2 separate regions of the Homo sapiens genome follow, and region 1 is linked to region 2. The links come from fine-mapping of genetic effects on plasma protein levels. A gene starts in region 2. The other region holds a variant in brackets. All regions are shown on one strand. Distances are between the middles of the regions.

Region 1 (5,217 bases), 11 kb before region 2:
AGCGATCCTCTGGTATCAGCCTCCCGAGTAGCTGGGACTACAAGTGTGTGCCACCATACCTGGCTAATTTTTACGTTTTGTTTTTTTTTTTGTGGAGATGGGGTCTTGATATGTTGCCCAGGCTGAGATTGTAAAAAGTCATCATGGAACACCCCACCTCCCAGTGCAGGAAAGCTGGCTGTGGTATTGCCAAGAATGATGTTTATTGCAGCACTATTCCCAATAGCTAAGATTTAGAGACAACCTAAGTGTCCATCAACAAATGAATGGATACAGAAAATGTGGTACATATACACAGTGGAACACTATTCAGCCATCAGAAAGAATGAGAGCCTGTCATTTGCAACATGGATGGAACTGGAGGTTATGATGTTAAGTGCAATAAGTCAGGCACAGAAGATAAACTTCACAGGTTCTCATTTATTTTTGGGAGCTAAAAATTGAAACAATTAGCCGGGCACTCACACCTGTAATCCCAGCACTTTGGGAGGCTGAAGCAGGTGGATCACCTGAGGTAAGGAGTTCAAGACCAGCCTGGCCAACATGGTGAAACCCTGTCTCCACTAAAAATACAAGAATTAGCCAGGCGCAGTGGCGCGTGCCTGTATTCCCAGCTACTTGGAAGGCTGAGACACAGAAGTGCTTGAACCTGGGAGGAGGGGGTTGTGGTGAGCCAAGACCTCTCCAGTGCACTCCAGCGACCTGGGAGACAGAGCGAGACTCCATCTCCAGAAGCCTGGAGAAATAGGGACAAAAAACAAAAACAAAACCAACTGAGTTAATGGAGATAGACAGTAGAAGCATAGTTATCAGAGGCTGGGGAGGGTGAGGGTATGTGGGTAGTGGGGAAGTGCGGATGGTTAATGGGTACGAGGAAATAGAATAAGATCTAGTATTCGATAGCACAACAGGGTGACTGTGGTCAATAATAATTTAATTGTACATTTAAAAACAACAAAAAGAATATAATTAGATTGTTTGTAACACAAAGGGTGAATGCTTGAGGTAATGGATACCCCATTTACCCTCATGTGATTATTACACATTATATGCCTATATTAAAATATCTCATGTACCCCATAAATATATCCACCTGCTATGTACCCACAACAATTACAAATTAGCAAAAAAAGAATAATGTGGCTCTTGCCAGGTTTCAGCTCCACCCTTGCTGTGTGTGTGGCGCGTTGCGTCCCCAGGTCCCTCTCAGTGGTCCGTGGAGAGCATTACCACCTGTCACTGTCTACTATCTCAGGGCAGACCCTCTCTCCTCTCTCTTCCTCCATCTCTGCACCCCACAAATAAAGTGGCAACCCCCCCGATGTGTGTCTTTGCAGAACCTGAATGTGATGAGATTGCCAGAAAATGCCAGTGTGCCCCTGGATGGGTGGAGGAGGGTGGGGCGGGTGGAGGGGACAACTTTGCCCCATTGGGGAACCACTGGGCTATACCTGTCACTGAAGCTTCCTTTCTCCCCTGCACCTGACTCCACACCTCAGGACGCAGGTCAGGAGGGCTGGGGGATGCTCTAGCCTTGGCCAGGTGGGCCTGGAGATGATTGTTCACTGCAGGAGCATTCACCTTTTTAGATGGGTGCTTCCTGTCTAGAGAAGGAGACACGGGGAGCTGGAAAGAGAAGCCTGCAGAAATAGGGACCGGGCAAAAACAAAGGAGGGTGGAGTCGGGGAGTGTAGAAGAGATAAAGTAAGGACTGGAGTGAGGAAGAGGCATCAAAAGAGGGAGGGAATGGTGAAGGCAGAAAACCGTGAGAAACGGGGAGTGAGAAGATAGCATGAGAAAGACAGGATCAAGTCAGGCGTGGTGGCTCACGCCGGTAATCCCAGCACTTTGGGAGGCTGAGGCGGGCGGATCATTTGAGGTCAGGAGTTTGAGACCAGCCTAGCCAACATTGTCTCTACTAAAAATACAAAAATTAGCCAGGTGTGGTGGTGTGTGTCTGTAATCCCAGCTACTCAAGAGGCTGAGGCAGGAGAATCGCTTGAACCCATGGTGGGGTGGAGGTTGCAGTGAGCCGAGATCGCACCACTGTACTCCAGCCTGGGTGACAGAGTGAGACTCTGTCTCAAAAACAAACAAACAAGCAAACAAAAAAACCAGGTAAACTGAGGCTGGGTTTTGTATCCCAGACCAAATGCCTGCACTTTGAATGCCTGGTTGGGAAGCCTGAGATTATCCTGTAGGGAAGCATCGAGAGCATGAACTGAATGGTGTTAGGAGACAATTATCCATGGCTCTCTTACCTTTCTGCCTGTCTCCTGAAAAAGGTATTAGCCACTTTTGAGTTCCAGATTGTCTTTTTATGGATGTTTCTCTAGAGCATCAGAGCATGTTTGTTCACTGTCTTAGATAATAAAGATAATGTCCTTCCATAATGATTTATTTATTGGCTAGGATAGTAAATACAACATGTCCTTCCGGGGCAGGTGGATCAGCAGTCCGA[C/G]ATAACAAAGATAATATCTCTCCGAGTTTCAAAGTCAAGCAGATTTCCTTGCATCTCCCTTATAAGATTGAAGATTTGTAAATACATGTAAACAGAGGTTCCCCAGCATTGACGCAAACCACTGTGTGCGCAGCATCTGCCTGAGCCACTCTGATCATCCCTGTAGGACCTGGGGGGCAAGGTGAGCCCATGTGAACATGAATCTCATGCTGCCGGCTGTGCCATGAGTAATAAAGTCCTTTGTCTCTGACCCGGAGTTGTTGTGTGTTCTGCCAATAGTTTCACTGGATACAAAATTCTTGGCTGATAATTGTTTTGTATAAGGAGGCTAAAGACAGGACCACAATCCCTTCTAGGTTGTAGGGTTTTTGCTGAGAAATCTGCTGTCAATCTAATAGGTTTTCCTTTATAGGTTACCTGATGCTCCTTCATCTTGACTTTAGATAACCTGATGACTATGTGCCTAGGGGGGTCATCTTTTTTTTGTTTTGTTTTGTTTTGAGATGGAGTCTCACTCTGTTGCCCAGGCTGGAGTGCAGTGGTGCGATTTCGGCTCACTGCAACGTCCGCCTCCCGGGTTCAAGAGACTCTTCCGCCTCAGCCTCCCGAGTAGCTGGGATTACAGGTGCGTGCCACCACACCCGGCTACTTTTTTATATTTTTAGTAGAGAAGGGGTTTCACTGTGTTAGCCAGGATGGCCTCGATCTCCTGACCTTGTGATTGGCCTGCCTAAGTCTCTTAAAGTTCTGGGATTACAGGCGTGAACGACTACGCCCGACCAGTGGTCATCTTTTTGCAATGAATTTCCCAGGCGTTCTTTGAGCTTCTCATGTTTGGATATCTAGATCTCTAGCAAGGCCAAGGAAGATTATTCCCCTCAAATATGTTTTCCAAACTTTTAGATTTATCTTCTTCCTTGGGAACATGAATTATTCTTAGGTTGGTTGTTTAACATAATCCCAAACTTCTTGGAGGTCTTGTTCATTTTTTAAAAATACTTTTTTCTTTGTCTTTGTTGGATTGGGTTAATCCAAAAGTCTTGTCTTTGGGCTCTTAAGTTCTTTCTTCTACTTGTTTGATTCTATTGCTGAGACTTTCCAGTGTATTTTGCATTTCTCTAAGTGTGTCCTTCATTTCCAGAAATTGTAATTGTTTTTGATTTACGCTATTTCTCTGGAGATTTTTCTGTCCATATCCGGTAACACTTTTTAAAATTTCTTTAAGTTGGTATTCACCTTTCTCTGGTGCCTTCTTGAGTAGCTTAGTAATTGATCTTCTGATTTTTTTTTTTTCTGGCAATTTCAGAGATTTCTTTTTGGTTTGGATCCATTGTTGGTGAGCTGGTGTGATCTTTTTGGCGTGTTAAATAACCTTGTTTTGTCGTATTACCAGAATTGGTTTTCTGGTTCCTTCTCCTTTGTAGACTATGTCAGAAGGAAGATCTGGGTCTCAAGGGCTGCTCAGATTCTGGATTTAGCTACCCAGTGGAGCGTCTGCGCTCTGGGCTGGTACTGGGGGGTGTCTGCAAAGAGTCCTGTGATGTGATTCATCTTCAGGTCTCTTAGCTGTGGATATCAGCACCTGCTCCGTTGGAGGTAACAGAGGAGTAAAGTAGACTCGCTGGGGTTCCTTGGTTGTATTATTTTTTAGTGCGCTGGTTTTGTGTTGGTTGGCCTCCAGCCAGGAGACGGCACTTTCAAGACAGCATCAGCTGCAGTAGTACAGGGAGGAAAACAGCTTGCCCTAGGGTTACCTGGATAAGTATTCAGGTTTCTCAGGTGGAGGATGGGGCCAGATAGCTTCCAAGAGAGTATGTCCTTCGTCTTTGGCTACTAGGGCAGGTAGAGGAACACCATCAGGTGGGGGCAGGGTTAGGGGTGTCTGAGTTCAGACTCTCCTTGGGTAAGGGTCGCTGTGGCTGCTGTGTGGGGGTGGGGTGTGGTTCTCAGGCCAATGAGGTTATGTTCCCAGGGGAATTATGGCTGCCTCTACTGCATCATGTGGGTCACCAGGGAAGTGGGAGAAAGCCAGCAGTTTCAGGGCTCACCCAGCTCCCATGCAGCCCAAAAAGCTGGTCTCATTCCCACTGTGTGCATCCCCAATCAATGCACAGTTTGTTTGCAGGCAGCAGGTGCGCAGGGCTGGGAACTCGCCCCAGGCTACAAGCCTCCCTGCTGAGAAAGCAAGCAGGGCTTTCAGGTTTCGTGCCTCCCCACCTGCTGCAGCTTCTGTGCTCATGTCTGCACTCACAGTTCACCCCCTCCCCTGAGTTCTGTCCAGGAAACTTCGTGTTCAGTTGAAATTGTTGCAAAGTTCAGCTGGAAGCTTCCTTCTCCCTGTAGTCTTTCCCCAATTCCGTTGGCAGCCCTCCCCAAGGACCCCTGTGAGATGAAGTCAGAAATGGCTTCCCTGGGGACCAACAGTACCCTCAGGGCTCTTCCTGCTGCTTTCTCTACCCCCCGTATTTCATTCAGCTCTCTAAGTTCATCTCGGCTCCAGGTAAGGTCAAATCCTTCTCCCATGATCTGGACCTTCAGATTCCCCAGTGAGGATGTGTGTGCAGGGGCGGATGATCCCCCCTTCACACTTTTCACACTTTGAGCACTCACAGTTTTTCAGCTGTCTCCTGGAGCCTGCAGCAGCAATGTGCTTCCTTCAAAGGGTCTGTGGGTTCTCTTGGCTTTCCTGGTATGTTCCTGCAGTAGTTCTTGGAGCAAAAATTCAAGACGTGAGTCTCCACATGCTGCTCTGTCCA
Region 2 (5,210 bases):
AGTGGGTCCACCCTCTTGAATTTCAAAGGAGGAAGAGGCTGGATGTGAAGGAACTGGGGGAGGGAAAGTGTCAGTTCCGAACTCTTAGGTCAATGAGGGAGGAGACTGGTAAGGTCCCAGCTCCCGAGGTACTGATGTGGGAATGGCCTAAGAATCTCATATCCTCAGGAAGAAGGTGCTGGAATCCTGAGGGGTAGAGTTCTGGGTATATTTGTGGCTTAAGGCTCTTTGGCCCCTGAAGGGCAGAGGCTGGAACCATTAGGTCCAGGGTTTGGGGTGATAGTAATGGGATCTCTTGATTCCTCAAGAGTCTGAGGATCGAGGGTTGCCCATTCTTCCATCTTGCCACCTAATCCTTACTCCACTTGAGGGTATCACCAGCCCTTCTAGCTCCATGAAGGTGCCCCTGGGCAAGCACAATCTGAGCATGAAAGATGCCCCAGAGGCCTTGGGTGTCATCCACTCATCATCCAGCATCCACACTCTGAGGGTGTGGCCAGCACCATGACGTCATGTTGCTGTGACTATCCCTGCAGCGTGCCTCTCCAGCCACCTGCCAACCGTAGAGCTGCCGACATCCTCCTCTGGTGGGAGTGGCCTGCATGGTGCCAGGCTGAGGCCTAGTGTCAGACAGGGAGCCTGGAATCATAGGGATCCAGGACTCAAAAGTGCTAGAGAATGGCCATATGTCACCATCCATGAAATCTCAAGGGCTTCTGGGTGGAGGGCACAGGGACCTGAACTTATGGGTTTTCCCCAAGTCTATTGCTCTCCCAAGTGAGTCTCCCAGATACGAGGCACTGTGCCAGCATCAGCCTTATCTCCACCACATCTTGTAAAAGGGACTACCCAGGGCCCTGATGAACACCATGGTGTGTACAGGAGTAGGGGGTGGAGGCACGGACTCCTGTGAGGTCACAGCCAAGGGAGCATCATCATGGGTGGGGAGGAGGCAATGGACAGGCTTGAGAACGGGGATGTGGTTGTATTTGGTTTTCTTTGGTTAGATAAAGTGCTGGGTATAGGATTGAGAGTGGAGTATGAAGACCAGTTAGGATGGAGGATCAGATTGGAGTTGGGTTAGAGATGGGGTAAAATTGTGCTTCGGATGAGTTTGGGATTGACACTGTGGAGGTGGTTTGGGATGGCATGGCTTTGGGATGGAAATAGATTTGTTTTGATGTTGGCTCAGACATCCTTGGGGATTGAACTGGGGATGAAGCTGGGTTTGATTTTGGAGGTAGAAGACGTGGAAGTAGCTGTCAGATTTGACAGTGGCCATGAGTTTTGTTTGATGGGGAATCAAACAATGGGGGAAGACATAAGGGTTGGCTTGTTAGGTTAAGTTGCGTTGGGTTGATGGGGTCGGGGCTGTGTATAATGCAGTTGGATTGGTTTGTATTAAATTGGGTTGGGTCAGGTTTTGGTTGAGGATGAGTTGAGGATATGCTTGGGGACACCGGATCCATGAGGTTCTCACTGGAGTGGAGACAAACTTCCTTTCCAGGATGAATCCGGGGAAGCCTTAATTCACGTGTAGGGGAGGTCAGGCCACTGGCTAAGTATATCCTTCCACTCCAGCTCTAAGATGGTCTTAAATTGTGATTATCTATATCCACCTCTGTCTCCCTCACTGTGCTTGGAGTTTACCTGATCACTCAACTAGAAACAGGGGAAGATTTTATCAAATTCTTTTTTTTTTTTTTTTTTTTTTTGAGACAGAGTCTCACTCTGTTGCCCAGGCTGGAGTGCAGTGGCGCAGTCTCGGCTCACTGCAACCTCTGCCTCCCAGGTTCAAGTGATTCTCCTGCCTCAGCCTCCTGAGTTGCTGGGATTACAGGCATGCAGCACCATGCCCAGCTAATTTTTGTATTTTTAGTAGAGATGGGGTTTCACCAATGTTTGCCAGGCTGGCCTCGAACTCCTGACCTGGTGATCCACCTGCCTCAGCCTCCCAAAGTGCTGGGATTACAGGCGTCAGCCACCGCGCCCAGCCACTTTTGTCAAATTCTTGAGACACAGCTCGGGCTGGATCAAGTGAGCTACTCTGGTTTTATTGAACAGCTGAAATAACCAACTTTTTGGAAATTGATGAAATCTTACGGAGTTAACAGTGGAGGTACCAGGGCTCTTAAGAGTTCCCGATTCTCTTCTGAGACTACAAATTGTGATTTTGCATGCCACCTTAATCTTTTTTTTTTTTTTTTTAAATCGAGGTTTCAGTCTCATTCTATTTCCCAGGCTGGAGTTCAATGGCGTGATCACAGCTCACTGTAGCCTTGAACTCCTGGCCTTAAGAGATTCTCCTGCTTCGGTCTCCCAATAGCTAAGACTACAGTAGTCCACCACCATATCCAGATAATTTTTAAATTTTTTGGGGGGCCGGGCACAGTGGCTCACGCCTGTAATCCCAACACCATGGGAGGCTGAGATGGGTGGATCACGAGGTCAGGAGTTTGAGACCAGCCTGACCAACATGGTGAAACTCTGTCTCTACTAAAAAAAAAAAAAATAGAAAAATTAGCCGGGCGTGGTGGCACACGGCACCTGTAATCCCAGCTACTGAGGAGGCTGAGGCAGGAGAATCACTTGAACCCAGAAGGCAGAGGTTGCAATGAGCCGAGATTGCGCCACTGCACTCCAGCCTGGGTGACAGAGTGAGACTCTGTCTCAAAAAAAAAAAATTTTTTTTTTTTTTTTGTAGAGATGGATCTTGCTTTGTTTCTCTGGTTGGCCTTGAACTCCTGGCTTCAAGTGATCCTCCTACCTTGGCCTCGGAAAGTGTTGGGATTACAGGCGTGAGCCACCATGACTGACCTGTCGTTTAATCTTGAGGTACATAAACCTGGCTCCTAAAGGCTAAATATTTTGTTGGAGAAGGGGCATTGGATTTTGCATGAGGATGATTCTGACCTGGGAGGGCAGGTCAGCAGGCATCTCTGTTGCACAGATAGAGTGCACAGGTCTGGAGAACAAGGAGTGGGGGGTTATTGGAATTCCACATTGTTTGCTGCACGTTGGATTTTGAAATGCTAGGGAACTTTGGGAGACTCATATTTCTGGGCTAGAGGATCTGTGGACCACAAGATCTTTTTATGATGACAGTAGCAATGTATCTGTGGAGCTGGATTCTGGGTTGGGAGTGCAAGGAAAAGAATGTACTAAATGCCAAGACATCTATTTCAGGAGCATGAGGAATAAAAGTTCTAGTTTCTGGTCTCAGAGTGGTGCAGGGATCAGGGAGTCTCACAATCTCCTGAGTGCTGGTGTCTTAGGGCACACTGGGTCTTGGAGTGCAAAGGATCTAGGCACGTGAGGCTTTGTATGAAGAATCGGGGATCGTACCCACCCCCTGTTTCTGTTTCATCCTGGGCGTGTCTCCTCTGCCTTTGTCCCCTAGATGAAGTCTCCATGAGCTACAGGGCCTGGTGCATCCAGGGTGATCTAGTAATTGCAGAACAGCAAGTGCTAGCTCTCCCTCCCCTTCCACAGCTCTGGGTGTGGGAGGGGGTTGTCCAGCCTCCAGCAGCATGGGGAGGGCCTTGGTCAGCCTCTGGGTGCCAGCAGGGCAGGGGCGGAGTCCTGGGGAATGAAGGTTTTATAGGGCTCCTGGGGGAGGCTCCCCAGCCCCAAGCTTACCACCTGCACCCGGAGAGCTGTGTCACCATGTGGGTCCCGGTTGTCTTCCTCACCCTGTCCGTGACGTGGATTGGTGAGAGGGGCCATGGTTGGGGGGATGCAGGAGAGGGAGCCAGCCCTGACTGTCAAGCTGAGGCTCTTTCCCCCCCAACCCAGCACCCCAGCCCAGACAGGGAGCTGGGCTCTTTTCTGTCTCTCCCAGCCCCACTCCAAGCCCATACCCCCAGCCCCTCCATATTGCAACAGTCCTCACTCCCACACCAGGTCCCCGCTCCCTCCCACTTACCCCAGAACTTTCTCCCCATTGCCCAGCCAGCTCCCTGCTCCCAGCTGCTTTACTAAAGGGGAAGTTCCTGGGCATCTCCGTGTTTCTCTTTGTGGGGCTCAAAACCTCCAAGGACCTCTCTCAATGCCATTGGTTCCTTGGACCGTATCACTGGTCCACCTCCTGAGCCCCTCAATCCTATCACAGTCTACTGACTTTTCCCATTCAGCTGTGAGTGCCCAACCCTATCCCAGAGACCTTGATGCTTGGCCTCCCAATCTTGCCCTAGGATACCCAGATGCCAACCAGACACCTCCTTCTTCCTAGCCAGGCTATCTGGCCTGAGACAACAAATGGGTCCCTCAGTCTGGCAATGGGACTCTGAGAACTCCTCATTCCCTGACTCTTAGCCCCAGACTCTTCATTCAGTGGCCCACATTTTCCTTAGGAAAAACATGAGCATCCCCAGCCACAACTGCCAGCTCTCTGATTCCCCAAATCTGCATCCTTTTCAAAACCTAAAAACAAAAAGAAAAACAAATAAAACAAAACCAACTCAGACCAGAACTGTTTTCTCAACCTGGGACTTCCTAAACTTTCCAAAACCTTCCTCTTCCAGCAACTGAACCTCGCCATAAGGCACTTATCCCTGGTTCCTAGCACCGCTTATCCCCTCAGAATCCACAACTTGTACCAAGTTTCCCTTCTCCCAGTCCAAGACCCCAAATCACCACAAAGGACCCAATCCCCAGACTCAAGATATGGTCTGGGCGCTGTCTTGTGTCTCCTACCCTGATCCCTGGGTTCAACTCTGCTCCCAGAGCATGAAGCCTCTCCACCAGCACCAGCCACCAACCTGCAAACCTAGGGAAGATTGACAGAATTCCCAGCCTTTCCCAGCTCCCCCTGCCCATGTCCCAGGACTCCCAGCCTTGGTTCTCTGCCCCCGTGTCTTTTCAAACCCACATCCTAAATCCATCTCCTATCCGAGTCCCCCAGTTCCTCCTGTCAACCCTGATTCCCCTGATCTAGCACCCCCTCTGCAGGTGCTGCACCCCTCATCCTGTCTCGGATTGTGGGAGGCTGGGAGTGCGAGAAGCATTCCCAACCCTGGCAGGTGCTTGTGGCCTCTCGTGGCAGGGCAGTCTGCGGCGGTGTTCTGGTGCACCCCCAGTGGGTCCTCACAGCTGCCCACTGCATCAGGAAGTGAGTAGGGGCCTGGGGTCTGGGGAGCAGGTGTCTGTGTCCCAGAGGAATAACAGCTGGGCATTTTCCCCAGGATAACCTCTAAGGCCAGCCTTGGGAC

Which allele goes with the higher level. Positions count from the first base shown, and alleles are read on the strand shown. Strength reflects both the effect of a copy and how common the allele is.
With allele G in place of C in region 1, the plasma level of the protein whose gene starts at base 3,626 in region 2 is higher (weak association).

The links. A credible set is the group of variants that fine-mapping cannot tell apart. PIP is the posterior inclusion probability: the model's chance that the variant is causal. Protein levels are from antibody-based Olink assays in UK Biobank. Linkage for the fine-mapping came from a reference panel and not from the study's own genotypes, which makes the PIPs less certain.
Region 1: its variant is the best candidate, but not a certain one, in a credible set for the plasma level of the KLK3 protein (UK Biobank, PIP 0.54).

The regions. Positions count from the first base shown.
Region 1 is chr19:50,839,851-50,845,067 of GRCh38, forward strand. The region is part of intron 2 of LOC105372441 (a long non-coding RNA gene); the gene reads left to right. Among named protein-coding and RNA genes, the nearest start is that of KLK15, 8.9 kb to the left of the region's middle. RefSeq lists a silencer at 570-757 and enhancers at 4,043-4,565, 4,566-5,087. The variant C/G (reference allele first, on the strand shown) is at 2,462.
Region 2 is chr19:50,851,290-50,856,499 of GRCh38, forward strand. It overlaps KLK3 (kallikrein related peptidase 3), which reads left to right and starts at 3,626. Exons shown (of 5, transcript NM_001648.2): 1 at 3,626-3,712; 2 at 4,951-5,110. The coding sequence starts at 3,667. RefSeq lists promoters at 1-3,637, 3,004-3,663, 3,086-3,637, 3,302-3,637, enhancers at 3,225-3,259, 3,452-3,474 and cis regulatory regions at 3,468-3,592, 3,537-3,600.